5 linked regions of the Homo sapiens genome follow. The protein of the gene in region 1 purifies or fractionates together with the protein of each later gene. This does not show direct contact. Each region holds a gene or a part of one and is shown in the gene's direction. Other genes may lie near its edges. The genes, in order: PDAP1, DIMT1, LIN54, PDGFB and FAM114A2.

What was found.
Region 2: the proteins of PDAP1 (region 1) and DIMT1 purify together in Homo sapiens (affinity purification with mass spectrometry; one large-scale study listed by BioGRID and IntAct). This does not show direct contact.
Region 3: the proteins of PDAP1 (region 1) and LIN54 purify together in Homo sapiens (co-immunoprecipitation; one large-scale study listed by IntAct). This does not show direct contact.
Region 4: the proteins of PDAP1 (region 1) and PDGFB purify together in Homo sapiens (co-purification; one study listed by BioGRID). This does not show direct contact.
Region 5: the proteins of PDAP1 (region 1) and FAM114A2 fractionate together in Homo sapiens (co-fractionation; one large-scale study listed by BioGRID). This does not show direct contact.

What each region holds. Positions count from the first base shown.
Region 1 is NC_000007.14:99,400,529-99,406,587, reverse strand, and holds part of PDAP1 (28 kDa heat- and acid-stable phosphoprotein), read left to right. Parts: intron 1-1,634; coding exon 1,635-1,726; intron 1,727-3,082; coding exon 3,083-3,190; intron 3,191-6,059. UniProt on the Homo sapiens protein: Enhances PDGFA-stimulated cell growth in fibroblasts, but inhibits the mitogenic effect of PDGFB.
Region 2 is NC_000005.10:62,393,092-62,399,150, reverse strand, and holds part of DIMT1 (dimethyladenosine transferase), read left to right. Parts: intron 1-269; coding exon 270-331; intron 332-411; coding exon 412-505; intron 506-590; coding exon 591-640; exon of another isoform or gene 641-722; intron 723-4,543; coding exon 4,544-4,667; intron 4,668-5,103; coding exon 5,104-5,196; intron 5,197-6,059. UniProt on the Homo sapiens protein: Specifically dimethylates two adjacent adenosines in the loop of a conserved hairpin near the 3'-end of 18S rRNA in the 40S particle.
Region 3 is NC_000004.12:82,981,833-82,987,891, reverse strand, and holds part of LIN54 (protein lin-54 homolog), read left to right. Parts: intron 1-3,015; 5' UTR 3,016-3,047; coding exon 3,048-3,731; intron 3,732-6,059. UniProt on the Homo sapiens protein: Component of the DREAM complex, a multiprotein complex that can both act as a transcription activator or repressor depending on the context. In G0 phase, the complex binds to more than 800 promoters and is required for repression of E2F target genes.
Region 4 is NC_000022.11:39,234,108-39,240,166, reverse strand, and holds part of PDGFB (platelet-derived growth factor subunit B isoform 1 preproprotein), read left to right. Parts: intron 1-4,292; coding exon 4,293-4,389; intron 4,390-6,059. UniProt on the Homo sapiens protein: Growth factor that plays an essential role in the regulation of embryonic development, cell proliferation, cell migration, survival and chemotaxis. Potent mitogen for cells of mesenchymal origin.
Region 5 is NC_000005.10:153,988,607-153,995,428, reverse strand, and holds the end of FAM114A2 (protein FAM114A2), read left to right. Parts: intron 1-456; coding exon 457-510; intron 511-2,318; coding exon 2,319-2,453; 3' UTR 2,454-5,281; downstream 5,282-6,822.

The sequences.
Region 1 (6,059 bases):
CTGGTGTTCTGGCTGAAGAGGGTCAGACTATAAAACTGACACTTTAACTGCTAGTCACATTTTTAACTTTTAGACTGTGTAGTCAGGTTTGTTTTCATCTGTACTTTGCCAGTCATTTCTTAGTCTAAGCACAAAGTTTTTGCCTGTAGGTTTGGGTTTCTTTTTTTTCCCTTAAGTATTCTCTTTTTGCCATACTACTAAGGTGAACACAAGGTATTTTATTGTGTTTCCAACATCTGCAGTAAATTGCTTATGTGCTCAGTGGTGCTTTTGTTGTTGTTTTTCCACCAAATACTAGATTAGAGGGAAAAGTAACGAACAGCGATTTTTTTATTTTTTTGAGACGGAGTCTCGCTCTGTGGCCCAGGCTGGAGTGCAGTGGCTCAATCTCGGCTACTGCAACCTCTGCCTCCTGGGTTCAAGCGATTCTCCTTTCTCAGCCTCCCAAGTAGCTGGGATTACAAACATGTGACACCATGCCCAGCTAATTTTTGTATTTTTAGTAGTGAGGGGGTTTCACCATGTTGACCAGGCTGGTCTTGAACTGGCCTCAAGTGATCTGCCCGCCTTGGCCTCCCAAAGTGCTGGGATTACAGGCATCAGCCACTGTGCCTGGATATTAGCGAACATTTTTGTAGTGCTTATTCAGTAGCAGGCACTGTTCCAGCAGCTTTCTGTATATTGATTAATTCATCTATCTTTGTGACAACCCTGTAAGGTAGGGACACAGATGAGGAAACTGAGACTGAGAGGTTAAATACCTGCCCAAAGTCATCAAGCCAGTAAGCGTAGAACCTGGGAGTTGGACTCTAAACTTCGTGGTGTTTCGCAGTCTGCTTTGGTCTAAGTCTCCTGGTCTATGAAATGGGACCAGCTATCACCCCTGTACCATAGGTTTGTTCCGAGGATCAACTGTGCCCCTGGCTGGCTGGGCGCGGTGGCTCACACCTGTAATCCCAGCACTTTGGGAGGCTGAGGTGGGCAGATCACGAGGTCAAGAGATCAAGACCATTCTAGCCAACCAACATGGTTAAACCCCATCTCTACTAAAAATAAATAAATAAGCTGGGCATAGTGGTGCACGCCTGTAGTCCCAGCTACTCGGGAGGCTGAGGCAGGAGAATCACTTCAACCAGGGTGGTGGAGGTTGCGGTGAGCCGAGATTGCGCCACTGCACTCCAGCTTGGGTGACAGAGCGAGACTCCGTCTCAAAAAAAAAAAAAAAAAAGTGCCCCTGGCTGTGACAGAACATCGTGTAAAAAGCCCTTATAGTGACGGCAGGGATGTAAGTGGTACATGTTTCTGTGGTTGCATCTGAGTCCACTATGCTTGGATTGTAAGGGACCAGGGGATGTAGCAAGTCATTGCAGTGCACCGTCCGCCATGTTCTCCCCTCCGGTCTTCTGTGTAGGAGCCAGCATTTAGTACACAGTTTGGTGATGCATCAGATGGTCACGAGTTGCTTCCTGCGTGCCTTTGAACACATGAGGGTGGCGGAGGTGTCGGTTTGGGTGGTGCTGGGTGAGGGGTAGGTGAGGCCTCCGATGAGAGTACTCCAAGCAGGACACAGCCCTCTGGGGGTCAGAGCAGTCAAGGCAGCTGCTTCCGCTCACCTAAACTGCGGGTCTCTGCAGGAAGAAAGGGAGGCCACAAAGGCCGGGCGAGGCAGTATACAAGCCCTGAGGAGATCGACGCGCAGCTGCAGGCTGAGAAGCAGAAGGCCAGGGTGAGTACGTGCCTGTCCAGGCCACGCCAGTGGCCCAGGGTGGCGCTTTGCCAATTTGGTTCATAGAGAGGCCAGGCAAGGACTACCCATTCGCAGGGACAAGCCAGCACGTGGGGGTCGGGCGGGCAGTGAGCCCCAGGTGTGAGTCTCAGAACAACCAATGACAGTCAGGGCGTGGGCATCCTCTGCCTGGATGGGTTAGAAAGAACTGTGGCTGCTCTGCAGCAGCTGCTTTAGTGGGGCCCTGTTCTTGGTCTTGTGCACCTACTTTCAGGAGGATCTCCCTCCTGCAGGACCTGTCCATTCACAGCTCGAGCTCCCAGCACCCCTGCTTGTCTGCTGCAGCCACACAGGATGATTTGCCACACTGCACATGACATATGCCCTGCCTTCCCACACCCCCAGCATCAGCATGCTCTCCATCCCTGGAGACGTTGTTTAGCCTCTCCTCCTCTGTGACTCATGCCTCACCTCCAGCCAGAGCTGATTTAGTAGTTCCCTCTCCTCTGCTCCCATAGTACATTGTCCAGGCCACCGTTAGGAAATAGAATACATTCCCATCGTCAGCATCTGCATCTTACCATATCATTAGATTGATGCCTGGATCAAGGGCCTAAGGGAGCAGTCAGGGCCAGATGGGTACACAGCTGTGACGTACCCCAGGAGTCTCAAGAAGGGAAAGGCCACATCCAGCTGTGGGGTCTGGGAGGGGTCCTTGGGGGAGCCAGCAGCTGAGCAGGACATGGAGAATGTGTGGGCAGGTGCCAAGAGGTGAAGGGACATGAGGTTCCTATAAGGGACATTTTTGGTGGGAAGGCAAGAAAGGTGGAGGGAAGCAGCCTTCCGAGGTGTTGTTCTGGGGAGCTGGTGCAGGAGGTCACCTGTGTGGGTGGGTCGGGGGGATGACTTGCCATGGAGTGGGAGTGGAGTGCGGAGAGGACTCGCCTGGGAATGCCAGCATGATTTGGCAGCTGCATGTGGCAGGTGGGAGCTGAGTAGGATGGTGGTTTTCAGCCTGGTGGCTGAGTCCTTCTGACCCCAGGAAACAAGCTTCTCACCCTGGCTGCTGAGGTGGCTGCGTTAGGAAGGGGAGCAGGGCCTTCTGTGGCTGTGTGAGGGGCTTCCTGGACTATGGGAATGGCCTCTAAGCTGTGGTGCTAAGTGCATAGGCTGCCTGTGTCTGGCCCAGGTCCCATTCCCTGGGGGCCAGGGTCACAGTAGGACCCTTGTCATCCTTGGTTCCAGCCTTCCAGAGGCTTGATTTCTCAAGATCCACAGTCTGGGGGGTGATAGGGTCACAGTCTTGGGGATTTGTTTTGCATTTTTGATTCTGCAGGTTGTCCATTTCTGAAACAGGAAGAAGAGGAGCAAAAAGAAGGTGGAGATGGGGCTGCAGGTGACCCCAAAAAGGAGAAGAAATCTCTAGACTCAGATGAGAGTGAGGATGAAGAAGATGACTACCAGGTACTGAGTTCTTTTGAGGGCCTAGAGCCTGGACTCATTCATTCAACAAACAAACGTTGAGTGACCGTTTAGTACTAGTCCCAAAGGTAGATGCAGACAACGTCCTTGCTCTTGAGGGTTTACACTACGGGAGATACAACAAAGAAGTAAACAGACAGTGTCATTTCAAGTAATGAGAAGTGTTACTAACAAAACAGACTGTGATTGAGGGGACTTGGAAAAGTGTTGTGGTGGTGAAGCAACTTATAAACTGAGATCTGAAAAAACAAGATGCAGCCAGCTATGTGAAAATTGGCGTGCAGAGCAATTGAGAAACTGGATTAGCAAGTGCAAAGGTCCTGTGGTGGGAATAAGCTTGGCATGTTCAAGGACCAGAAGGGGGCCAGTGTAGCTGTGAGTTAGTGGGTAAGGAGCGGAGTGGTCCAGATGCAGGAGGAGAATTGGCAAGGGCACCTCCTGTGTAGCTGTTGAAGGGGTTGGCATTTCTTTTCTTTTCTTTTCTTTTTTTTTTTTTTTTTTGAGATGAAGTGTCGCTTTGTCACTGAGGCTGGAGTGCAGTGGCACGATCTCAGCTCACTGCAACTTCCGCCTCCCAGGTTCAAGCGCTTCTGCCCCAGCCTCCTGAGTAGCTGGGACTACAGGCGCCTGCCACCACGCCGGGCTAATTTTTTGTATTTTTAGTAGAGACAGGGTTTCACTGTGTTAGCCAGAATGGTCTCCATCTCCTGACCTCGTGATCCACCCGCATCAGCCTCCCAAAGTACTGGGATTATAAGCGTGAGCCACTAGCCCAGCCCCCTTTTTTTTTTTTTTTTTTTTTTTTTGAGACAGGGTCTCGTTCTGTCACCCAGGCTGGAGTGGAGTGAAGCTGCAGTGAAGCACCGCAGCCTCAGCCTTCCAAGTAGCTGGGACCAAAGGCACACGCCACCACATCTACCTAATTTTTAAATTTTTTGTAGAGATAGGGATCTCACTATATTGCCCAGGTGGTCTCCAACTCCTGGGCTCAAGTAATCCTCCCACTTCACCCTCCTGAGGTGTTGAGATTGCAGCAGCATGAGCCACCATGCCTGGCATGGGGTTTCTTTATGGTAGGTAGTGGCAGCTGGGGGAGGCCTTGAAGGGATTGAGAGACATGACCAGATATGCTTTTTTTTTTTTTTTTTTTTGGGAGATGGAGTCTCTCTGTCGCCCAGGCTGGAGTGCAGTGGTGCGATCTCGGCTCACTGCAAGCTCCGCCTCCCGGGTTCAGGCCATTCTTCTGCCTCAGCCTTCCGAATAGCTGGGACTACCGTAGAGGTAGCGTTTCACCATGTCAGCCAGGATGGTCTCAATCTCCTGACCTCGTGATCTGCCTGCCTTGGCCTCTCAAAGGGCTGGGATTACAGGCGTGAGCCACTGCGCCCAGCCTCCAGATATGCTTTTAAAAGATTATTTTACTTTGGGAAGCCAAGGTGGGTGGATCACAAGGTCAGGAGATCGAGACCATCCTGGCTAACACAGTGAAACCCCGTCTCTACTAAAAATACAAAAATTAGCCAGGTGTGGTGGCAGGCGCCTGTAGTCCCAGCTACTTGGGAGGCTGAGGCAGGAGAATGGCGTGAACCCGGGAGGCGGAGTGCAGTGAGCCAAGACTATGCCACTGCACTCCAGCCTGGGCGACAGAGTGAGACTCCGTCTCAAAAAAAAAAAAAAAAGATTATTTTAGCTTCTTCATGGAGAGTGAATGATAGGATGTTGAGAGTAAGAGCAGTGTTCAGATCAGAAATCCTGGGCCGGGTGTGGTGGCTCACACCTGTAATCCCAGCACTTTGGGAGGCCAAGGCGGGCGGATCACCTGAGGTCGAGATTTCGAGACCAGCCTGACCAACATGGAGAAAACCTGTCTCTACTAAAAATACAAAATTAGTCGGGGGTGGTGGTTCATGCCTGTAATCCCAAATACTCAGGCTGAGGCAGGAGAATTGCTTGAACCCAGGAGACCGAGGTTGTGGTGAGCCGAGATTGTGCCATTGCCCTCCAGCCTGGGCAAGAAGAGGGAAACTCTGTCTCAAAAGAAAAAAAATCGTGGCTTGCCCTAGGATGGTGACAATGGCAGTGGAGAAGAGTGGACAAATTTAAGCTGTATTTGGGGGTTGCTGAAGGAACGACGAATCAAGGATATGCTTAGGATTGCAGGGAGGGTCCGGTTGGGTAAAGGATGAATCTCGAGTTCTGTCTTGGACATGTTAAGTTTACAGTGCCAGGCATCTGAGTGGAGGTGTAAGTGTGCAGCTGGACTGGAAGTGTGTGGAGGGAGCTCTGTGGAGTGGAAGCTGTCTCCCTGCCCCCTTAAGGAGAATTGATGGAATTGACAGGGCCTGAAACTTTGACCAAACCTGCTGCATTGAGAACACACCCCCTTCTTCTGGAACTTCTGCAGGGGAGGTGGAAGGTGCAGATTCCAGGTTTTTGGGCCAGCGTCCCAAACCTGTAGAGTGTGTGATCCAGTAGCTTATTCTTGGGTTACAAGTCCAGTCCATCAGCTAAGGTGGGTGGGAATTGGAATTAGTCATGACAGCACACACTTGGCCCACCCTGCCCTGGGGATTCCAGCCCAGCGCTTTTTGCAAGAAGAATCAGGCATGGGATTCCATGGAAAACTGCTTTTGGAAGCCGAGCTTGAAGTAGGGGAGTAGTGCTGTGTGAGTGCTTGCAAGTCGGGGTAGGGCGCACCTCTCATCTACCACCTACTTCCTGGTTGACTTGGGCAAGTTATTCGACCCCGAGCAGCCGTTCTGTGGGCTCTTCCCAGGCTGATGAAGATGCTCCAGAGAGCTATACCCACTGTGAGACTTGGGCTGAGCACTACGTGGGCTGGGGTGGAGCA
Region 2 (6,059 bases), on another chromosome or scaffold:
ACCATGTTGGCCAGGCTGGCCTTTAACTCCTGACCTCATGATTCGCCCACCCCAGCCTTCCAAAGTGCTGGGATTACAGGCGTGAGCCACTGCACCCGGCCCATTTTTGTTTGTTGTTTGAAGTATGCGAGTATAATTAAAGGAATATTGATGGTAGAAATGGGAGAAGAAGTTTGTCACATAAATCATGTAAGAGTTCCTGTTGGGATAACAATAAAAGATTTATATTCCATAATTAACCTAAATAATTTTTATTTTTTTTAAATTAGGTTGTTGCTTGTGAACTTGACCCAAGGCTAGTAGCTGAACTTCACAAAAGAGTTCAGGGCACGTGAGTATACATAATAGAATTAAAGTGCATTTCAATCTCATGAAACAACATTCTTTTTACATTTCTTCTTTTCTCATCAGGCCTGTGGCCAGCAAACTTCAAGTACTGGTGGGTGATGTGCTGAAAACAGATTTGCCATTCTTTGATACTTGTGTGGCAAATTTGCCTTATCAGGTATGTCCTCACATTTTCAGGAACATCATACTAACTGTTCCTCTGATGTGTCTTTCCCGGAAATAACTAGTTAATTCTCTTACAGATCTCTTCACCTTTTGTCTTCAAGCTGTTGCTACATCGACCTTTTTTCAGGTTTGTGACAAAAGACTAGAGTTACTGCCAAATTTTGAAAGACTTACAGTTCAGGTGGTGAACATAGCCAAAAATGAGTCAGGTCAGTTGAAAAACTACTGAAGAATTTTTGTAGAAAATGTTGATTTGTATGGAGGTCTTTCTCTCTTTAATTGAGAGGTTATTTGGGGGTAGTGTGCTGGAAGTCCTGCTTCTGAGACCAGACAGCCTTTCCCTATTTTTGAATCTTCCTGCCGTTAAGTCTAGGTTAGAATTTTTATTACCTTATGTCTAGACAATTGCAGTGGTTTCCTAACTGGTCTCTAGTATAAGAGGTCTTCAAAAAGTTCATGGAAAATGTGTATTATGAAAAAAACTTGCATGGATTTCAAAATTTTTTTGCACCAAAATAAACTCTGTACTAACTGAGCAGGATCTAGTGTGAGGCACTGAGAAGGATAAGACATCAGTTTGAAAAGAGCCCCTATCAGAGCAACATGAACTCTGCTAAAATTCAAGTAAGAACAAACATCCAATTTATGGTGAAACCTGGTTGGAAGAATGGTGAAATCATTGATGCTTTACAAAAAGTTTATGGAGTCACACCTGTAATCCCAGCACTTTGGGAGGCCAAGGCAGGCGGATCATGAGGTCAGGAGATCGAGACCATCCTGGCTAACATGGTGAAACCCCACATCTACTAAAAATACAAAAAACTAGCCGGGCGTAGTGGCGGGCGCCTGTAGTCCCAGCCACTCGGGAGGCTGAGGCAGGAGAATGGCGTGAACCCGGGAGGCGGAGCTTGCAGTGAGCCGAGATCGCGCCACTGCACTCCAGCCTTGGCGACTGAGCGAGACTCCGTCTCAAAAAAAAAAAAAAGTTTATGGGGACAATATCCCAAAGAAATCAGCAGTTTACTAATGGATAACTCATTTTAAGAAGGGCTGAGACAATGTTGAAGATGAAGCCTACAGTGGCACACTGGCCATATCAATTTGTGGGAAAACATTCATCTTGTTTGTTCCCTAAGTGACGAGGAACAACATTCAACAGCACAAACAATAGCCAACACCATAGACATCACAGTTGGTTTAGCTTACACAATTCTGACTGCAAAATCAAAGTTAAACAAACTTTGTACTTGATAGATGCCAAAACTGTCATACCCTCTTTTCTGAAAGATTTTATGAAAAAACAAAACAAAAAACATTGTACTCAAATCAGCTGCAGATAAAAGCAGAGCTTCCAGTGGAAATTTTACATAACTGGGATCAAGATCCTGAAACATGGCTGGGTGGAGTGGCTCACACCTATAATCCTAGCACTCTGGGAGGCCGAGGCGGGCAGATCACTTGAGGTCAGGAGACCAGCCTGGCTAACATGGTGAAACCCCATCTCTACTAAAAATAAAAAAATTAGCTGGGCATTGTGGTGGGCACCTATAATCCCAGCTACTCGGGAGGCTGAGGCAGGGGAATCGCTTGAACTCAGGAGGCGGAGGTTGTAGTGAGCCAAGATTGTGCCACTGCACTCCACACTCCAGCCTGGGCAACAGAGCGAGATTGTCAAAAAAGAAAACAAGATCCTGAAACATTTCTTCAAAGAATTACAAAGAATTGTAATGGAGATGAAATATGGCTTTACCAGTGTGATCCTAAAGACAAAGCAGAGTGAAAGTGATGCCTACCAAGAAACGGAGTGGCTCCAGTCAAAGCAAAAGCAGACCAGTCAAGAGCAAAGGTCATAGCAACAGTTTTTTTTTGAATGCTCAGGGCATTTTGCTTGCTGACTTTCTTTAGGACCAAAGAATGAAAACATCTGCTTATTACAAGAGTGTTTTGAGAAAGTTAGCTAAGATGTAGCAGAGTAACTCCTGGGAAAGCTTCCCCAGAGATTCCTCCACCATAATACTTCTACTCCTTCCTCTCATCAGACGAGGGCAATTTTTCGAGAGTTTCAATGGGAAATGGTTAGGTATCCACCTTACAGTCCTGATTGGGCCCCTTCTGACTTCTTTTTATTTTATGAGACAGTCTTGCTCTGGTGCCCGGGCTGGAGAGCAGTGGTATGATCTGCACTCACTGCAGCCTCCACTTCCTGGGCTCAAGCATTCCTCCCACCTCAGCCTCCCAAGTAGCTGCGATTACGGGCATGTGCCACCACACCCAGCTAATTGTTGTATTTTTTTTAGAGATGGGTCTTGCCATGTTGCCCAGGCTGTCTCCCCCTCCTGAGCTCAAGTGATCTGCCCACCTCAGCCTCCCCAAATGCTGGGATTATTACAGGCATGAACCATGGTGCCCAGCCCTTCTGATTTATTTTCGTTTCCCAGTCTTAAAAAATCTTGAAAGGGCACTCTTTTTTCTTCAGTTAATAATGTAAAAAAAAAAAACCTGCAGTGACATGGCTAAATTCCCCAGAGCCTCAGTTTTTTTGATATAGACTAAAATGCTGGTATCATCACTTACAAAAGTGTCTTGAACTTGATGGAGCTTATGTTGAATAATAAAGTTTATGTTTTTTCTTTTTTTTCTTTTTCTGAGACAGGCTGGAGTACAGTGGTGACATCTCAGGTCACTGCAACCTCAGCCTCCCTGGGCTGGGCTCAGATGATTCTCCTACCTCAGCCTCTTGAGTAGCTGGGACTATGGGGGTGTACCAGCATGCCTAGCTAATTTTTGTGTTTTTTTTAGAGAAGGGGTCTCACCATGTTCAGCCCAGGCTGGTCTTGAACTCCTGAGCTCAAGCGATCTGTCCGCCTTGGCCTCCTAAAGTGCTGTGGATTATAGGTGTGTGCCGCCACACCAGCCTTATTTTATCTTTTAATTCAATATTTCCATGAACTTTGAAGTCACTTTCTATATTATATACTAGTGGCTTTCAAACTGCAAGTCAAAAACTAGTGGTTATAAAATTAATGAGTCATGACCATTCTTTTTTTTTGTAATCACATGGAATAGAATATATCACAGGGCATTGCATGTAGTCCAGGTGATTATGGTTTCATGAAACTTTTGTTTTGAAATACAATATAAACACATATACATACAGACATTTGTGGCTTGGCTTGCAATGCCAAATGTATTTTTAGTGTGACTCATTGTCAAAAGTTTGAATGTCAAAGTGTAGCTTTGAAGATACTCTTCTGTTCGTTAACCCCTACAAAGTCTTCCCCATTGCCTGCTGAATAAAAAGTCTACATCTTTTGGCTGGGTGTGGTGACTCATGCCTGTAATCCCAGCACTTTGGGAGGCTGAGGTGGGCGGATCACCTGAGGTCAGGAGTTCCAGACCAGCCTGGCCAACATGGTGAAACACTGTCTCTACTAAAAATAGAAAAATTGGCCAGGGGTGGTAGTGTGCGCCTGTAATCCCAGCTACTCGGGAGGCTGAGGAACGAGGATCACTTGAACCTGGGAGACGGAAGTTGTAGTGAGCCGAGATTGCGCCATTGCACTCCAGCCTGGGCGACAAGAGCGAAACTCCGTCTCAAAAAAAAAAAAAAAGTCTACATCTTTTAACCCGTCAAATCAAGGAAACATTGAACGTCACAATCTGCCTCTTCAGTCTCACCTCTTCCTTAAAGGTGTTTGCTACCCCATAAATATATTACTGCTACTGAAACAATTTTATTTCACTTTGTTTTCATAGAAGAGGTGATGGACTAGTGCTGATTTGAAACATCTCATCCAGTCATTAAAGGCTTATATTTGCAAGCTATCTTGCCATGAGGAGTACAGCAATTATAAAAACAAAGCCAGCTCTCTCATTCTGTGGCAATAAAAAAAAGGCTGAATGTGTTCTCCTACCTTATAATCAGCTGCCAATGCTTTGCTATTTCTCTCCCAAGAAAATTCATTGCAGTTAAAATTCATTTATAGTTGACAATGACCATTTTCCTTATTCCTTTCTGCTTTCTTTTCAGGTGTGCTATACTTATGTTTCAAAGAGAATTTGCCCTCCGACTGGTTGCAAAACCTGGAGATAAGTTATACTGCAGACTCTCAATTAATACACAGCTGTTGGCACGTGTGGACCATCTAATGAAAGTAAGTGAATTTTGTTTTCTTTCTCTTTTTTCTGAGATAGAATCTCACTCTGTCACCCAGGCTGCAGTGCAGTGGCTCACTGCGATCTCTGCCTCCCATACTCAAGCAATCTTCTCGAGTCCCGAGTAGCTGGGACTAGAGGTGTGCGTCACCACGCCTGACTAATTTTTTGGTATTTTTTGTAGACACAGAGTTTTGCTATGTTGCCCAGGTTGGTCTTGAACTCCTGGGCTCAATGATCCATCTGCCTTGGCCTCCCAAAGTGTTGGGATTACAGGTGTGAGCCAAAGCACCCAGCCAGTGATTTTTATTATTGAAATAATCTAGCTTAATTCATCCTTGAGCATCCAGTTGTGCCTTCTGTGAGGATAGCATATCTGGTTACTAAATAAAAGTTGCCTTTGTGAGTACTACTTAAATACTTTTTCATTAACAGGTGGGAAAGAATAACTTCAGACCACCGCCCAAGGTGGAATCCAGTGTTGTAAGGATAGAACCTAAGAATCCACCACCACCCATCAATTTTCAGGTGAGGTTAAAATACTAGCTCATTCAATAAAGGAAAAAAAAGTCCAGGCGGGAAGATGTGTGCCTATAACAGCAGAAAAATATTGAATCAACCTAAATATTCAAACATAGGAAAATGTTAATTAGGACACATCCCTGTGCTGAAGTAGATGGAATAATTTGATGCAAGGTAGTTTTGAAGTGAGACCCAGTCTCAAAAAAAAAAAAGAAAAAATGGAATAAAACTAGGAAAACAAGGTAAAATGAAAATAGTTGTTTTAAAGTAGTATTATGGGTAACATCTTTTCATTGTAATTGTTTTTTGAGATTTAAAAACAAGAAAGAAGACCACTTGATATAAAACCTTACTACAGCCACATTAGAGAAAAACGTGATTGTGTGTGTGGTCAACTGGTGGTAAATGGAGTGGTTTGTCAATAACTCCTTCAAGGAGGTTTAGGTGTGTTACACAGGAAGTATCTGAAGTCATGTCTGTTTTGAATCTTATTTTTGAAAATGATACTTAGATTTAAATAAACGCCATGTTCTTTGTTCAGATGTGGGACCATTTTGTTTTTCCTTCCCTTTCTTTTTTTAAGATGGGGTTTCACTATGTTGCCTAGGCTGGACTTGAACTTTTGGTCTCAAGCGATCCTCCCACCTCAGCCTCCTGAGTAGCTGGTACTACAGGCATGCAGCACTGTGCCTGGCTTTATTTTTTCAAATTAAAAAAAAAAATTGTCATGCTTTGTCAAAAAAAAATTCTGAGGAAAAGACATATTCAGTGAAATGCGCCAAAGTGCAAAAATCAAATGTATGTCTTACTTTTGCATGTGTGTGCCAGCCAGATCAAGATTACAGAACATTTTCTTCACTTCAGAAAGT
Region 3 (6,059 bases), on another chromosome or scaffold:
ATGTACCCAAAGGAATATAAATCATTCTACTATAAAGACACATGCACACATATGTTTATTGCAGCACTATTTACAATAGCAAAGACATGGAACCAACCCAAATGCCCATCAGTGATAGACTGGATAAATAAAATTTGGCACTTATACACCATGGAATACTATGCAGCCATAAAAAGGAATGAGATCATGTCCTCTGCAGAGACATGGATGAAACTGGAAGCCATCATTCTCAGCAAACTAACACAGGAACAGAAAACCAAACACTGCATGTTCTCACTTATAAGTGGGAGTTGAAGAATTGAGAACACATGGACACAGAGAGGGGAACAACACACATTATGTTCTGGTGGGGGGTTGGGGTCAAGGGGAGGGAACTTAGAGGTGGGGTCAACAGGTGTAGCAAACCACCATGGCACACGTATACCTGTGTAACAAACCTGCATGTTCTGCACATGTATCCCGTTTGTTTTTTGTTTTTTGTTTTTTTCTTAGAAAAGTAGACTTATTTTTTCCCTGTTTTAAAACACCAATGGCAACATTTAAGGGAGTATAATTTTGGGATTAAGGTTATTAACTGTGGCATCTTTTTAAAAAAATTTTTGAGACAAAGTCTCACTCTGTTGCCCAGGCTGGAGTGCAGTGGCACGATCTTGGCTCACTGCAACCTCCGCCTCCCGGCTTCAAGCGATTATTGTGCTTCAGCCTTCTGAGTAGCTGGAATTACAAGCACCCACCACCACGCCTAGCTAATTTTTGTATTTTTAGTAGAGATGGGGTTTTGCCATGTTGGCCAGGCTGGTCTCGAACACCTGACCTCAGGTGATCTGCCCACCTCGGCCTCCCAAAGTGCTGGGATTACAGGTAAGAGCCAGTGTGCCCAGCCAAGATAATTAACTGTGGCATATTAAAAACCTGAGCTGGAGTCCTGGCTCTACCATTTACTAGCTATGTGACCTTAGGCAAATTAACCTTTCTAAATGGCCTCATCTATAAAACAGGGATAATGATGATTCCCATTTCTGAGTTGTTGTGAGGATAAATTAAATTACGTCATCAGTGTTGTAAGCACTCAATAATGATGGTTTATTTTGGTGGTAGTAGTATTTGCCAATGCTAATAGTTGTAATTTGCTACTTGTGTGTTAATTTTGGATGGGTGTTGTATCTTTTTTTTTTTTTTTTTTTTTTTTGAGATGGGGTCTCGCTCTGTCGCCCGGCTCAAGTGCAGTGGCACGATCTCGGCTCATTGCAACCTCTGCCTCCCAGGTTCAAGTGATTCTTCTGCCTCAGCCTCCTGAGTAGCTGGGACTATAGGTGCATGCCACCATGCCCAGCTAATTTTTGTATTTTTAGTTGAGACGGGGTTTCACCATGTTGGCCAGGATCGTCTCCATCTCTTGACCTTGTGATCTGCCTACCTCGTGATCTGCCAGAATGCCCAGCCGGGGTGGTGTATTTTTATATTTAAAAAAAGGGGGCCGGGCATGGTGGCTCACACCTATAATCCCAGCACTTTGGGAGGCCAGCGTGGGCAGATCACCTGAGGTTGGGAGTTTGAGACCAGCCTGACCAACATGGAGAAACCTTGTCTCTACTAAAAATACAAAAAATTAGCTGGGCGTGGTGGCACATGCCTGTAATCCCAGCTACTTGGGAGGCTGAGGCAGGAGAATCGCTTGAACCTGGGAGGTGGAGGTTGCGGTGAGCCGAGATTGCGCCACTGCACTCCAGCCTGGGTAACAAGAGCGAGACTCTGTCTCAAAAACGAAAAGGAAGAGAAGAAAGTTGCTGATTTGGTTCCTATGGATCTTTGATGTTCTCTGGGCAAATAACTCACTGCTATTTAGTCTGTCATAAACATGATGTGCTGTCTTTTATACATGAAGATAATAAAATTGATTCCTTTATTGGAAGTTCTACAGACCTTTGGCTAAAAGTACCACAGCTCAAAGTTTTTCGTAATCTGCTTTATGATTATTACTTTTTTTCTTCATGGGGATTGGCTGTACATCTCTTAAATGGTTCTTTTTGACACTTTAAATGGCGGAGGATGGCCAGGCACGGTGGCTCACGCCTGTAATCCCAGTACTTTGGGAGGCCGAGGCAGGTGGATCACCCGAGGTTAGGAGTTCGAGACCAGCCTGGCCAACATGGCAAAACCCTGTCTCTACTAAAAGTACAAAAATTAGCCCGGCTTGGTGGCAGGCGCCTGTAATTCCAGCTACTCAGGAGGCTGAGGCAGGAGAATTGCTTGAACCCAGGAAGCGGAGGTTGCAGTGAGCTGAGATTGTGCCACTGCACTTCAGCCTTGGCAACAGAGTGAGACTCCGTCTCAATAATTAATTAATTAAGTAAGTAAGTAAATGGCCAAGGAGGGTTTGAGAATCTTCTTTCCAAATAAAAATTTCCCTGGTATGAAGCTAGTTGGTCAAAGTTGTACCACAAATGCTATTTGATCTGCAATTGCTGAGATGTATTACTCTAGAAACTCCTTTAACTTTAATTTGGGTATTTAATGGATTTTTAAAATGGGATAGTACACTCATATTAGGACGTAGCTCATTGGAGATTTGAATGTATTTTACAATATGTTAATATTTAAATCTTTATTTCCTTGTGTGAATCAGCAGTTTTCAAGTCTGTCAATGAGAGGAAAAAAATCTGGGTAGAAATAAGATCAGATACATCAAAGATTACAAATTTTATTAGAGGGCGTTGGAAAGGAGTTTCATGTGATTATGTGACTTAGTGTTGCCTGAGTGCAAGATACTTGTGGATTGAGACGAGAGTAAGAATGTTTGCTTCTAGTTTTGTGTTCCCATATGACTTATATTATAGATTCTTGCAGGTTGAGGATGTGTTAACATGATTTAACCCAGATAAGCTTCAGGAATATTCTTCATTCAATTATATATCAATTTAAAAATTGTCATTTTGCCATTTGCATTTTTTTTGAATTTTTTTCTTACATCTTTTGAAACCTAGTAACTTGTTCATTTTTCAACTTTTATTACAGTGCCTGATCAACTTTCTAGCGGGAGAACGATCATGGAGGTGGTGCCAGCTGAGGTGAATAGTTTGCTTCCAGAGGAAATAATGGACACTGGTATAACTTTAGTGGATGATGATAGTATTGAGGCTGTTATTGTTTCATCCCCAATTCCCATGGAGACAGAACTGGAAGAAATTGTCAACATAAATTCTACTGGTGACTCTACAGCCACGCCCATTTCCACGGAACCAATCACAGTGTACAGTAACCACACTAACCAAGTTGCAGTGAATACCACAATTACTAAAGCAGATTCTAATACCACAGTGAAACCAGCTTTTCCAAGTGGCCTTCAAAAACTTGGTGCTCAGACTCCTGTGACTATATCAGCCAATCAGATTATTTTAAACAAAGTATCACAGACATCTGATCTTAAACTTGGCAATCAGACCCTTAAACCAGATGGACAGAAGTTAATTTTAACAACTTTGGGCAAGTCTGGTTCACCAATTGTTTTAGCACTACCCCATAGCCAACTACCCCAGGCTCAGAAAGTTACAACTCAGGCCCAGTCAGGAGATGCTAAGTTACCACCGCAGCAAATTAAAGTAGTTACCATTGGAGGGAGGCCAGAGGTGAAACCTGTCATTGGTGTCTCAGCATTGACCCCAGGAAGTCAACTGATTAATACTACAACTCAGCCCTCTGTGTTACAGACCCAACAGTTAAAAACAGTACAGGTAAAAGAAAAAAGGGGGCTTACTAATTAAAATGCATGTTTAAAAAAATTTAACTGATTCATAGTTGTGTTTATAGGGTTACTAAATACATAGTTGTTACTGAATTCTTTTGAATGTTGTTTTATGTAATTGTGTGTGTGTGTTTTTAAGTTTGATATGTCTAATGCTTATGAAAATTTTTACCAGATAACTTAGAAAGCAAACTTAATTTTGGTTAAATTCCAAATTAGTATATTTATAGCCTTTTACTAATTTTAAAATGCATTTTATTCTTAGTGGTAGTTTGATTACAAGGATGTTTTGCTGGTATAAATATGCCAGACTTGCTGCTGGGCTATCAAAAAAATCATGTAGACAACATTTTTTTTTTTCAGTTCACAGATGGCCAAAGGCTAGGAGAACTTTGTTGCTCTGAGAAACCCTCAGAGCCAGTAATAGTGCGTGTCAGCCAGCGTGTGCCTTTTATTTGGAGTTTACTGTTCATTGCCATTATTCATGTTTGTACTATGGAAAAGACAGTGACATGTGATGGAAGATAACATACAGGCTTTAGAGTTGTACCAACTGGGCTTGAGTTGCCTCTATCTTATCCTACCAGTTATGGAAAACTTTCGTAGGTTACTTATCTTCTCTGAGTTTTTGACTTTATCTTAAGAATACTTTTTGATCAAGATGAAATGTGTAGTATAATTCTCAAAATATTGAGGATGTTTCATAATGGTACCTATTATTAGTATGAATAGGACCCTAAGAAAGAAGGTTACTGGAATATATATTAAGTGATTTCCAGTTTATCATGCCCAAATAGGCTTTCTTAGGCCACCACTACTCTTGGAAATGCAGTGATCGGCGGGGCGTGGTGGCTTAAGCCTGTAATCCCACCCAGCACTTTGGCAGGCTGAGGTGGGCGGATCACCTGAGGTCAGGAGTTTGAGACTAGCCTGCCCAACATGGTGAAACCTCATCTCTACTAAAAATACAAAAAATTAGCCAGGCATGGTGGCGAGTGCCTATAATCCCAGCTACTCAGGAGGCTGAGACAGGAGAATCGGTTGAACCCGGGAGGCAGAGGTTGCAGTGAGCCGAGATCGCGCCATTGCACTCCAGCCTGGGTGACAAGAGCGAAACTCCATCTCAAAAAAAAAAAAAAAAACAAGAAATGCAGTGATATACTTATGACCAGGAAACAAAAATGTATCCTCTGTTTGAAAGAGTTGTCTTTGAATGCATAGAAATAATAGGAAATGCATAAGAAGGAAGTAGGAAGGTTTTGGGAGACTACACTCAGCTGATATTAGAGTAATGTTTTGGTTACTGTTTTGACAGTAGAATTAGAAACCACTTTTCATGGGCTTTGCATTTAAGAACTTTGTAGAATTTCTTAAATCTTATAATTTGCCTCTGTCCCCTTTGCCATTATTAAACATTTAGTGCTCTTTCTTGTTCATTATTACTTCTCACTTATCTATGACTTCCTTTTACTTCTTATTTTTGCCAAGAATCTCTTGGATGAGATATCTTATCACCATCAAGCATCTTGTCCTCAGTTTTGAAGCTTGTTTTTATTGGTTTACCAAAGTTTATTTGGCTTTGGCAATATGGATCATAATTATGTTCAAAAGAAACTGATGCCAGGTGTGGTGGCTCACGAACCTGTAAGCCCAACACTTTGGGAGGCCAAGGTGGGCAGATTCTGTGAGGCCAGGAGTTCGAGACCAGCCTGGGCAACATAGTGAAACCCTGTTTCTACCAAAAATACAAAAAATTAGCCCAGCATGGTGGCGCACACTTGCGGTCCCAGGTACTCAGGAGGCTGAGGTGAGAGGGTCGCTTGAGCCGGGGAGGTCTAGGCTGCTGTGAGCTGTGGTCGCATCACTGCACCTCAGCCTGGGCTACAGGAAAACCCTGTCTCAAAAAAATAAAAATAAACTAAAAAAGGAAAAGATATCATAAATTAGAATGTCATTTTTTTCATTTATGAGAGCAAGGTATATGTGACATTTCAATGACCAGTGTTGCTTGTATCTATTATTTCTCTACTTTAACTCCCTAAGTAATGACAATAAAAAAAAGACTGGGGTCTAATTCTTATAACTTGTTTTATTGTTACTTTTCTGTTTTGTTTTGTTTTGTTTTTGAGACAGGTCTCTCTGTCACCCAGTCTGGAGTGCAGTGGGTGCTCCACTGCAGCCTTGACCCCCCAAGCTCAAATGCTCCTCCCACGTCAGCCTCCCAAGTAGCTGGGACTACAGATGCAAACCACCACACCTGGCCAATTTTTGTATTTTTTTTGTAGAGATGGGGCTTTGCCATGTAGCCCAGGCTGGT
Region 4 (6,059 bases), on another chromosome or scaffold:
GGTTCTGGGCCCACGTGAAGGAGCAGAGGCTGAGCGGGAGGGTCCCAAGAGCAATAAAGAAGGGGAATGCTAGGTGGGAAACACTGGTTCTAATGGCTTCTGTGGTTTGCCCCGAGAGGGCTTCTTCAAAGGGGTTGGTTGGCTTTGGCATTCGATCTAAATAAGGCCTGCGACTCTCAGGCAGGCAGGCTCTGGGAGGCCTCATCAGCTTCTTCCTCTGCCAGCCACAGACAACGCCCCTGGTTGCTTGGGCCTGTGTGTCCCTTGGTGGGAATGGCAGGCGGGCCGGGGAGTGTGTATCTGTGTGTGTGTGCTGGGCCCAGGAGGAGGGTGGGGTTCAAGCCCCTTTGATCTGCCAGCCTGGTTGGGAGCAGATCACTCACCTGGCCTCACGCTCGCTCGTGCCCTTCCTACCTGCTGCAGCTGGCGCTGGGGGCGGGGTCGGAGGAGGCTGTTTACCTTGGCTCCCACGGCTGGCTTTGCCCCAGCTGCCTCCTCGCCACGCCCTCACTCTGCCAGAAACCCCGGGCCTGAGATCTTGGGACAGCTTCTTCAGGGTGCCAGGCCTCCTTTCCCATCTCTGAAGTGAGCTGTCCACCTGGAGGCCTGCGGAACCTGTGCCCAGGAAAACCAGGCTCCGGGCGGCTCACCTTCCCATACCAAGAAGAGCCTGTGACTCCCAACAGGTGCTCATGCTCGTCATCCCCAGAGCATTGCATCCTGGAGCTGAGCACGTGCTGAGTGTCCCCCCACCCTCACCCACCCCCAGCCCCGGAAGGGCCTTGTAAGCCCACACGGCCCAGGCTCTGCCAGTGTGGAGGTAGGGTACCATTTCCTGTGGCCCAGCACAAGGGATAATGCAAAGTCACGCACTCTTTCATGGGCAGGCAGCTCTCCACCCACTCCTTGTCATCCTCAAAAATGTCCTGTGCTGCTGGCCCTGAGCACGTGTGCCACTCGCTGCTGCCCACAAAGGAGCCATCCGGAAAGAATTAATGATGATGACAGTGACAACTCATTAAGCTCCCATTATCTGCTGGCAGCTCTGCTCTGTGCAATTATGCCTCCCAGTAACCCCGGGCGAGGTATTATTAGCCCCATTTAAAAGATGCAGAAGCCGAGGTTTTAGATTGTGACAAGATTCCAAGAATCCAGGTTGCCCTGGCATCTGGAGCCCTTGCTCTTTCCTCCGCTACAGGGTTTCTCAGCCTCTGCACTCCTGATGTTTGGGAAGGCCGTCCTGTGCCCTGAAGGGTGGTGAGCGGCATCCCCGGCCTCCCCCAACTTAAGATGCAGTGCACACCCCAAGTTGTGGCCACCAGCGATGCCTTCATACATTGCCACTGTCCCCTGGGGGCCCACTGGGCCCTGGTTGAGAGCCTCTGACGTGGGACATGCTGCAGAGTAAAGAGCCAACACGAACCTTGTGTGATGCTGAGGGCCAGTGGCCTTAGAACACAGGAGAGGGAGGCTGAGACGCCCCATGGTGGGCTGGAACAGGTGGGCAGTCTGGAGCCTGGGAACGACCCAGCTCTGCCACTTGCTAATTGTCTGGACCTGTTGCTGCTTGTTTAATTTTTTCTAAGCTTCAGTGTTCTCATCTGGAGGATGGGGATACAAATACTGCCAGCCTCTTAGGATTGGTAGTTTATACGGTGTTTTTCTCAGCGTGTGGCTTGTAGCTGGCATTCATAGATGTTAGTTGTGGTATTATTACCAAATCCGGGGGCTTATGGGTAGTTCTGGGCATCTAGTGGCCACATTACCAAAAGCATCTTCAGGGACGGTCTCCCTGCTCAGATTAAAAGGGACTCTAGTTGCTCATTTGCCTAGGGTTGGGGAAGAATATCCCAGGTGGCCCTCCTGGTGGAGGAGGCAGAAGAATCATACTGGACAGAACCTGGAAAATGGTAGACTCCTTCATGCATTTGACCAGTATTTACCGAGGACCTACTATGTGCCTCTCTCTCCTCCTCAGACCCTATCCTGGGCTCTTTCACACTCAGCCTTGGAGGGGCATCTCCTATGTGTCGTGGGCCTGGATCTGGGGTGTCCACTCGGCCTGTTCAGGGGTCTGCCTCCTCTGCCGTGGCTGGCAGCTGCAGCCGGCTCTCCAGTGGGCAGGGAGATCTTGGCACAAGCACTAAATGCCATTTGCTACTAGGCCTTTGGGCCCCTCCCCTGGGGGGTTAATTGAATCTTTACTCCACAAACGCTTCTTGTTCTCCTTCTGCCAGTGATCCAGGGAGGCCTGGCTAGGCACCCGGCTTTGGCGTTTTCTCTGCCCCTTCTAACGCCTCCTGGCAGAATTAGAATTGAATCGAATGTTCTTCAAGCCCCTCGATTCACAGATGAGAGCCAGGACCATAGGGGCAGTGACCAGCCGAGGTCACACGGCAGTTGGTCCAAAGGCGTGGGATTCAGCTCTCTGGCCTGCCAGTTCTGGGTTTGACAGAACTCTCAGGGGAAGCGGCTTTCGCTGGTGTTCACTGGAGACCAAGCCCTCTGTTCTGTGGGTTGGGTACTTTGTCAACATTTGGAGAGCACCGGAGGCGTGGTCTCTCTTCTGAGGTGGAAAGAATGAACTTGCTTGAGGGCGGGAGGAGGCAGAGCCCGGAGGAGATGGGGCCGAAAGTGAGGGGCAGCGGGGCCCATACCCTCCTCTGTCTTGCACGTGCAGCCCCTGGCTGCCCGGATATTGAAGGAAAGACCCTAGTTCTCAGCCAAGCCCTGCCACCTTTTTTTCCTCAAGTTGCCCAGCAGCCCTTAGACATTGGGCGGAGTTGTAAGCTCCATGTTCAAACAAAGACATGGAGACTCAGGGGTTTCAGGGAATGATGTAGCTTTAAAAGTGGTCACCCCCACCCCCCGCCCTGAGTCTTCTGGCTCCTGGATCGATGTGGGTGGCCAGAGTTGGTCATGGATGAACCCCTGGAGGTGTTGCTAGACCTCATGATAAGCTGGAGGAAACAGAGCTTTCGGGGAGAGCCCCCTGAGGCTGGCCACAGGGCTGAGACGACCTCTTCTCCTCTCCCTCGCTCCCCCTCCGCCGTCAGGCAGCGAGAAAGCAGCATCCCTTTTGTGAAGGTAGCCTGCACCGACCCCCTCTGAGCCCCCCGACCTTCGGCTCCGGGAATGTGGAGCGAACCAAGAAGGGAAGTCCTCCCTTCTTAATCCAGGGAAACTGAGGCAGAAAATAGTTTAACCCAAGGTTCTATAGTAATGTGCCAAGCCTATTGATGCCCTCTCCAGGACTGTCTGTCCAGACCGTGCAGCCCGAGTGCCTGTGCCTGCACGTGTGTGTTTGCACACGTGGAAGTCCGGTTCCAGCCTTTGAACGTGCAGCGACATCTTAGGAATTTTCTTTGCTTCTCAGTGGCTGGTGGTCTGGATTGTGATTCTCAGTCTCCCATCTGCCCTCGCCTCTTTCTTGGGATCTCTGGCATCCGCCCCTTGGGTCTCCTGGGACTGTGGGGGACGTGGCTGTGACCTTCCTACGGGGCTGCTCTTGTGTCATTGTGGGACCTGCGGTTTCCCTGGAGGAAGCCCAGCTCCGAATGAGGCCTGTTGAAGTGTTATCAGGTTTCGAGTATGTTTGGCAACAGGCCAAAGGGGCTCTAAAAATAGGGTTTGGTTGGGCACAGGGCACGGGTAAGCTTTCAGGTTTCCCGGCCGTGTCCGAGGATTCCCTTTTCGCCTCTTTCGAGTGAGAGACTTCATAGATACCGCTAGGACCTGGGGCCTCCTGAGGCCATCGCACTCTGCACGCGTTTATTAAGCACCTCTTGTACCCAGGAGCCTGGGAGTACAGGCTCTGTCATCCCAAAGGCATGGGTTTGAATGCAGCTTTTGCCAATAATTGAGCCTCTCTTTGAACGTTTGTTTTCCCCTCTGTAAAATGGGGGTTAGATTGGCCATGGGAGATGCTGGCTGTCTTCAGCTGTCAGGTGTGTTGTGAGACTCAGGGAGAAATCAGATTTTGGTGCATTCCCAGAACATGTAGTTTGGTGGGGGAGACAGACATAGAGACAAGCAGGTCCAACTCAAAGCAAGCTGGGGTTCCTGTTGGGGGTTGAGGGTGCAGGGACTGAGCTGGGTCTCAGAGGCTTCGGCAGGTCCAGGCCCCGAGGCCTTTGTGCTCCTGATCATCAGGCCTGGATCCTGCCTGTCCGTCTCCCTGTGACCTTGGAGCTTTCCACAGGAGAAAGCGAGAAAGCGTGTGGTGGGGGAGACAGCCATGCTGGAAAGCCCCCACTCCCAGCTCACTCAGCCTTTTGGTGTCTGCCCGGCAGGGGGACCCCATTCCCGAGGAGCTTTATGAGATGCTGAGTGACCACTCGATCCGCTCCTTTGATGATCTCCAACGCCTGCTGCACGGAGACCCCGGAGGTAAATGGAATCCTCGCCCCGCGCTCCGGCCCTCCGAGGAGACTTTAAGAGATCTGGGAGGGGCAGGACAGGAGGCATCCCTCCTTCTTGACGTCTGGAGAACTAGAGGCCCATGGCAGCCCAGAGAGAGCGTGGCCACACCCATCCAGGGCAGGGCCGAGTCAGCAGGCGGGTTGGTACCTGGGACTTGGGGTGTGGCAGGAGAAGCACCCACGTGTGGCTCCGGCTTGGTGCCAAGGGTGGGGTGCCAGGAGGAGGGAGGGCGGGGAGAAGGTGCCCAGGGCATCTGCCGAGTATGTCTCCAGGTGTGGGCCCAGCCAGGGAGGGTGGCACTGGAGGAGTCATCTCCCCGCCCCTCTGGCTAGGGGCCCGGTCTGTGAGGTCCCCTGGGGACACCTGGCCTCGACCAGCAGGCAGCCCTGCCCGTGCCCCAGAGCTCACTCAGCGAATGGGCACGTGCTCGGTGGCACACACGTGGCGGGGCTGGCGGGCTGGATTGACAATGTATTTATAAACGCTGTCTTCAGAGCAAATTCCATTCTATTCTAACCTCTGGCCTGTTCCCTGGAGCCCTGGTCAGCAGCCCCCCTGCACCCCCAGGTCCCCTTCCCTCTGGGGTTCTGTCTCTTTGTCACTTTGTAATCCTTGCCCAGACGCTATCTACGGGGGAACAGCATTTCCTGCCTTTGTTTCCTCTCCCCGTTGGGCCCCTGGCTCCCTCTCAAAAGCATTCCCGGGCCCTTTCAATCCCGCCTGTGCTGGGGGGCGGTGAGGCAGGCAGGAGGGGGCCCCAGCTGGGCCCACCTATTGTTCGCCAGGGCCCCCACCCGATGTCTCCCACAACCCCCACCCTATGCCCGACTGGCCGCCCCTGGCCACACACAATGGGGCAACTTCCAAATTTAGCCTTTCTACCATTTCTTTCCAAGCCTTTACACCCCCACCCTCAGACGGCCCCTCCACACCCCTGGTGGGGGTCGGGATCTTGGAGATGAGGTTTCAATAGCAGGCCTGTTTCAAGGCAACCATGTGGCTATTTTTTCCTAATCAACTTAACCTTTCCACAAAGCGCATCTTTTCCCCATCTCCTCCCCACCAGGGACATTCCAGAGATGGCAGGGAGAAAGGAAAGGAGCCAGAGGGACAGATAGGCTCGTTGACGTAGGGGCTGTCAGGCTGGACGGAAGCGGACTAGTCATCAGACTCCCTGCAGTACCCGGGACGGACAGGCGGCAGGCGCCTTTGTCTTGGATGGGGCCAGTGGGTCGGTGCCAGAACTGGAGCCATGGGGTGCTGTGTGGAGGTGGCAGGAGCGTGTTCCCAATGCCCCTTAGTTTATTTGTGGCTCCTCACCCATGAGAGAGACAGAAGGGTCTGTCCACGCCTTAACATCCAGCTCAGAGGCCTCCCTCAGCCCTCACTTCCCAGCAGCCAACCTCTGGCCATGGGCTCTGGAAAGGACCGATGTCTCCAAGGAGGGCTGATGGGACTGAGATGGTGCCCAGGCTAGAAAAGGGAGCTGTCATTTGTGACCAGAGGAATCAACAGACGGCTGGGGGCAGAGGTGGGGCAACAGTTTAGAGAAGGGGAGGGAGACAGACACAGATACAGATACGGTGTGAGGGCCCCGGAGCTAGAGAGACCAGGCCCTAGAAGGGTGTGTGGCAGGG
Region 5 (6,822 bases), on another chromosome or scaffold:
CTTTCTGTGTGTTCCATAAAGATACTTTAAGCCAGCATATCAACTATAAGATGCTGACACATACAAGTATTAAATTTACATTATTTATTTGTAAGATTTTTCTAAACAGCTTGTGTTAAAGACCCTTGAGTTTTTTGAGCACATGTTCCATATCTACATGTTTTGTTTTAAAATGGTTCTAAGGTTTTGTGGTCAAATGAAGATACTTTTTAAAGTCAATAAAAAGGTATAAAACAATACACTGTCAATATGGATAGCACAGAAAGATATTAAGAAAGAAGTTTAAAACACTTAGAATTTCCATTCTAAAGATGACATTTTGCTCTCAGTCCAGACTTCTGTGCTTATATTTAATATTTATGTATGGGTGTGTGTGTGTGTTTTAAAGTGTGATCGTACTCCACTTACTGTTATTTAACCTACTCTGCTCACTTAAAAATGTATTCGTTATTCCAGGTCAAAGAAATGGCAGATGTCCTTAACCCATTAATCACTGCAGTATTTCTAGAGGTTAGTAATTGTTTTTAAGTCTCTGACTCCAAAGGTATTACGTATAATTAACTCTTCTGAAGCCTTTTGCTTTTGGCTTTTTTATTTTATTCACCATATTGGTAGTTTAGCCATATTGATGTAGATATGACAGAAATAGTGTATATTTGATGTGTATTCCTTCCTTATTAATTAGAAAGCATACAGTTGAAGCTGCAGGGTACTGGAAGAAGCAGTAGATTGTCATTACTTAGTACTAATCCTTGACAGCTTAATGGACGGTTCACAGTAATGAAACACCTTCTGAATACCAGCTGGTAAACATGAAGGGCTGAAAATTATAAACAGGTAAGCACTGCTTCCTAATTTAGGACTAAAGTTTATGCAGAGGTTTGTTACAAAACAAAACATGTTGTCATTTCCTTGCCAGGAAATCATGCTTTGTTTTGTCAGAAAGGTAGTGTTTACATTATCCTCATCATTCCATTAGATTTGAGAAGGTAGATGGTTTAAGTCAATGGAAAAGAGGATCCTGTGACTGATTATATTACCTCCCTATGTGATGTTTTCTGGATTCCATGTTTTAAGAACTCTACCTTGTAAACTAACTGTGCAGACAACATAGACTTTTTGATGATTTGTTTAAAACATGTTTATGTAAGTCTGGGGGGAGAAAATATATTTGATAGTTAAGTTTTAGATGTTAATTGAAAAAATGTTTTAACTACCAAACTCTTACTTCTCTAGTTTTAAATTCTTTTGACATTACCATCAAGGAAATGATTTTAATTCTTTAATTACACAGTTTTAATCAAGTAGTCAGGGAAACTATTTTGATCATTGTAATAATTTTTAAAAATATAAGTTTGTGATTTAGTAAATGGCAGAGTGGTGCAGTAGAAAAGACTTTGTAAACCAGGAGCCCCGTGTTGCCCTGGATCTTCCTTGATTTGTTGTGTGACTCTGACAAACTTCGTTATTTTCATGTGCAACATAAGAGATTTAACTAGACGATATCTGAGGTCCCTTTTGTGTGGGAAATTGAGTATTAAATGTCACACTGAATTTTAAATAGTACTTGCCATTGATAAATTTTAAAAAGGTAATATCACTTGATATGGGCTCCCTATTATTTTTAGTGGATTTTTTTTTTGGATACAGATTTGAAACACTCTTGTCTTCGAAATTATACATTTTTATCTTAATGAGCTCTCTGTTGATATTCTTTTGAAAGGTGAGGGCTTTTCAGTATAAATGAAGTCCAGCAAACTGAGGGTAATGATTCTCTAACACTTCTGAAAAATGTTGTTCAAGATAGAAATATATCTATACTGTCATCTTTGAAAGCAGTATATGTGTGAAAGATGTTTATGTGTGTGAGCAGTTATTGTGCTCACTGATCGCATTGAGTCCATGGAAAAAGAGCTATCATAATGGGCTAGAAATTCTATAGGTGTAGGATTTATAGCCTTCTGAAAGCCTCTTTCAGTAATTGACCACAATATTGTGACAGAATCTACCCTACTCAATAAAGGAATAAATAAGCTTTGAATGCCAAGTCTGACCATGTTGCCAAAGAAAAGCTACCATGTCTGATGGGCAAGTTGTACAAAATGCTGACATTCTCTTTTGGTGCTCATATCATCTTAAGAGCTAAATTCTTCTCCCTATAATAGAGTTTACCAAAATGGCCAAGTCACTGCTCTTACTTGCCAGGCTATGAATTCAGTTAGATTACAAAAATTAATCTGTTCCCCTGTTGCCTTACAGTATATCTTCTCTTTTAAATAACTAATATTTTCTTTTTCTTGTTTTTTCAATCCTGGCAGGCATCAAACAGTGCCTCCTACATCCAGGACGCCTTTCAGCTACTCTTACCTGTGCTAGAGATCTCTCTCATTGAGAACAAGATTGAATCACACAGACATGAGCTGCAGGGCCAGAAACCTTTGTTAGAACATTGAAGAATGGAGACGTTTTGACCTGGGACTTGTGACGGCCAAGGAATGCCACCTTATTCTGGCTACTCCTGCAGAAATGAAGGAGTGGGGTTATTTTAGTATATAAAAATTCAGGCAGGAGAGATGGTTTAAAGAGGAAGATTGTTGCCTTCAGTGTTTGATTGAAGTATTCAGGTTCTCACAGTATTCTTTCCAGTTGTTGTAATTCATAAATTATTTGAAAAGAAACTTTTGTAGAAAGTCCAAGAATAATAACTCTAGATAAAGATTAGTGGGACACTCAGGCAAAAATGTTGGTCTTTCTTTGACATGTTGCAAAATGTTATCAATTTTGTCATGGATATAATTTGCAGCCCATGGATATAACTGGTTGATAAGCCAGAGAAAAATAATTTAGTGTTCTAAAATTCATGGCATGTGTGGTTTATTAATGCCATGTACTTTCTCCTTTCTGGAATAAAATCTATGGCTTTAAGAAAACTGAGCATATGTAAACTCTGTGATGATTACCCTTTATCACATGAATTCTTGGAAATAGAAAGTTTCATCTGCTTTTTTAAATTCTTAGTAGATATTTGGCATTGAGGAGAAACTTGTAGACTATTATAGCCATGTGAATTAACTGTAGCAAAGTGCCCTTTTTCTTCAAATTGCTCCCCCTCCCCAGGATGACACACTTCATGTCATAGCTGAACCCTACTCTACTGGATTCAAGGCCAGTAAATGCAATTTAGAGAAGCAGTTTTATGTTTGCAGATATTCTGAGTCTCTTCAGGATGTGTTTCGTGTCTACCATATATGCAGGATAAATTCTTTAACAGCAAACTCCAAAGGAATGTTGAAGCTGTTTTAGCAATGAGGATTTTTTTGTTTGAGTGTTGAAGTGGGCCATAGTCCTTTAGAAATGATGTTCATTTATGATAGGATTTAACTTCTAAGGCATAGTTTATTTTTTCCTCTTTCCTTTTTGTTTGTTTTAATGTATTCTTTAGCATGTTTTTGATATAACTTTTATCCTCCAGATCTTAAGCTTTCTTTTGCTCTCTTCAGCAATTTAAGAGACTATTAAGCTGTCGTCTTCCTAAAAGCTATTTTGGTATCCACTCTTTTTAAAAAAATTCTCCAACTTTGTGGTTTTTTAATGATTAAGGTAATTTGTTAGCTCTGCCCCTCATCTTCTAAAACCTTTGTAATAAAATGTATTAATCATGTTATTTGATCCTTTCATTTACTTTTGTAAACACGAGCCCTAATATCTTACTTAGACCAAAAAAAAAAAAAAAAAATAGCAAAGCAAAGCCATAACATAGATTAGTATAAAGACTGTTTCTACGTAATCTTCTTTGGGGCAGGAGTCAGTTAGTAAGCAAGGAAGAGAAATAAATTTGGTTTAAAAAGGTATACCAACAGCACTACAATGTTACTCTGCCTATATTCTGTCTTAATATGATCAGAAAGTTTTTGAATATTCCTTTTTAAAGACAAATTTCACCCTTTCCAGCTTGAATATTTCTGAAGTTTCAGAAAAACAGTTGCCTTCTGGTTACAAAGGCTGGTGTCACCAGTTCTGAATTGTTGCCTCAAGCTTGGTTGATGTGTCTGAACCTGTATCCCTTGAGGGCAAAGTTTAGAAACTGGTCACTCTGCCTACTGTCTGTTCAGCCTCTTGTACAATGGCAGTTTGGCAGCTTTAAATCCTTAACCTAGAAATGTATTTAAGGTTTTTCTTTCAAGAAATGGGGTATACATATGAAGGAGAGAGTAACAACTCTTTTTATACACCTATTCAGATTTCAGCCCTGAATTTGGCAAATTTTAGATTAGGTCTCACATAAGGTAAATATGACTCACTAACTCTTTTTTTCTCATCTTCCCCACCCCCCCATATATATTTATTTATTTTAATGGAGTTAGGGACCACTAGTGAAATGATGAAAGGCCCAATTCTGAGTAACAATTGTCTACTCTTCACATAAAATATACTGAAAAAGAATTAAGATTCCTTGATCCAGTAGACATAGAGAAACATAAACATTCATGACAGATGAGTAGGTAAATTCAGGGATCACTTTGGAACTTGCTGGATTATGGTGATGGTTTTTGGATAGTATGTGCTTCATTATTTTATTTGGGGTAGTTACAGTGTTTTAGTTTTTTGTTAACAGCTACACTTTTGGTACTATTTTCCTTTTAAATTTTTGGTGTCTAAGATTTACCACTAATTACTAATATATGCCTTTCCAATTCACTTAAAACCTTAATAAGTGAAATGTTCAGGTATTGCTAGGGTAAATGTGTCTTTTCCTACTATTGAGATTTTAAAAGGCTGTGATTAAGAGAGACTTTATTAATTTGATCTGAAAGAAGTAGAAACCTCTATGAAACAATTTTTATTTTCCTTTGCATAATACCTTAGAAATGTGTTAAGGACAAGCTATATTTTCCTTACTTGCTTTTGATAGTTTTTTTTTTTTTTTTTAAGCATAGATATCCAGGTTGGCAGGCCTCTGAAATGTGAAATTGTAATTTTTATAGATGGCATTACTATGAATCTGAAATCAGTGCTAGGTGTACAAATGTGAATTTTTCAATCCTGTAATCAAAGAACAAGATCTTGTGGGTTCCTACTGCTGAAAAAGGATGCTTTCTTTTGTACTTGTTTTTAGTGAAAGACCTTTTTGAGGGAGAGCTATTTTATAGGTAGTTGCTATTGATATCTCCATTTGAGAAATAGACATTTTTCTGTATTTCTAGAGGTGTTCTGAATTTTAAACCTGAATTCTTCAGTTTAGAAAACCCAGAATAAAATTATACCCACAGTGGGCACTCAACAAGTGTGATATTTCACAAATGTCAGAGACTGAGCTGTTTTATTATCTCTTTGTGTGTGTGTGTGTGTGTGTGTGTGTGTGTGATGGAGTTTCACTCTTGTTGCCCAGGCTGGAGTGCAGTGGCGTGATCTCGGCTCACCGCAACCTCTGCCTCCTGGGTTCAAGTGATTGTCCTGCCTCAGCCTCCCGAGTAGCTGGGATTACAGGTGTGTGCCACCACACCTGGCTAATTTTGTATTTTTAGTAGAGACAGGGTTTTTCCATGTTGGTCAGGCTGGTCTGGAACTTCTGACCTCAGATGATGCCACCTGCCTCGGCCTCCCAAAGTGCTGGGATTACAGGCGTGAGCCACTGTGCCTGGCCCTTTTATTATTTCTTAACAACACATGATATCTCTTTTCATAAAAGACTTAAAAAGCATTTGAGAAATGAGAAAGTTCTAAAAATAATAAGCCTCTTAGTTAACATGTCATAAAGGCCTCTGGCAACTGTATGAAGAGAATTTTGAAAACTTGCCCACTGGTCTGACTCTCTGAGTATATCCTTGATGTTCCTCAAACACTAGTTCATTCGGTCCTCCCTACTTAACTTGAAGCCCATCCTTCCCTGTTACTGTATCGTCCAGCCAAATCCCAAAGGCCCTTCATGTTTAATTATCATTTCCCCAGGCAAGTCCTAAAGACAATTTTTTTAAAAATCTGAATATTCTCTCAACTCATTTGTCCTTTGAGCTAAAAGCAAAGAAAGATTCATTATAGCTGTCACTTCACCCTCACAAGTCAATGTTGAACTTACCAGACATTTAAGTGTCTGACTGGCCTACCCTTATAAGAACAGATACAGAAACTGCAAATTGAGTGAAACCATCATCTATTTCTACTTGTGTCAGTCCCACATTTGTCTCTTTCTGTATACATTAGCCATTCTGTGCTCTCAAGTGAGTTATAAAGCTGTTCTGTATAGTGGAAATAGGTGATCAAAGTATGGTTTCACAAATCACATAGGTTATTTCCATAGAGAATGTTGTAGCTTCACAATGCTTAAAGAGGGGGAGAATAATGAGCACAAACCTCACAGGGAATATACTGTATAGAAGAGGTATGTTAACCATATAGTAAGTGAGTTCCAAAATTATTAAAAGTCTAGTTGCTCAATTAGGATAGGAGCAGACCTCTGTGGAGAGTAAGTCTAGTTAATGTTTGAGATACACCTTTCTACAAGTGGTTTTAGGTGGAAGCTGGGTTGACCACAGTGGAGACACATGCGACAGGTGAGGTCCCTCTAGGGCCAGTCTTCAGAGATTAGCATGAAGGCTACAGGGTGTCATCCTGTCACAGGATGACAGAGCACAGAGTCTGAGCTCTCTGTGTTTGGAGAGGTGGCTGACGAGTGTAGCTCTGCCTAAGCTCTCCTGGTGTCTGTTAAACTCTTGAGTGTATATGTATTTTTGAAGTCCAGTAGTTGAGGTCGGTAACTTGGTAATTCGCATATGGGGAGTCTGATAAGGTTTAATGTAACAGTCCCAAGGGGAGGGGGGCTCA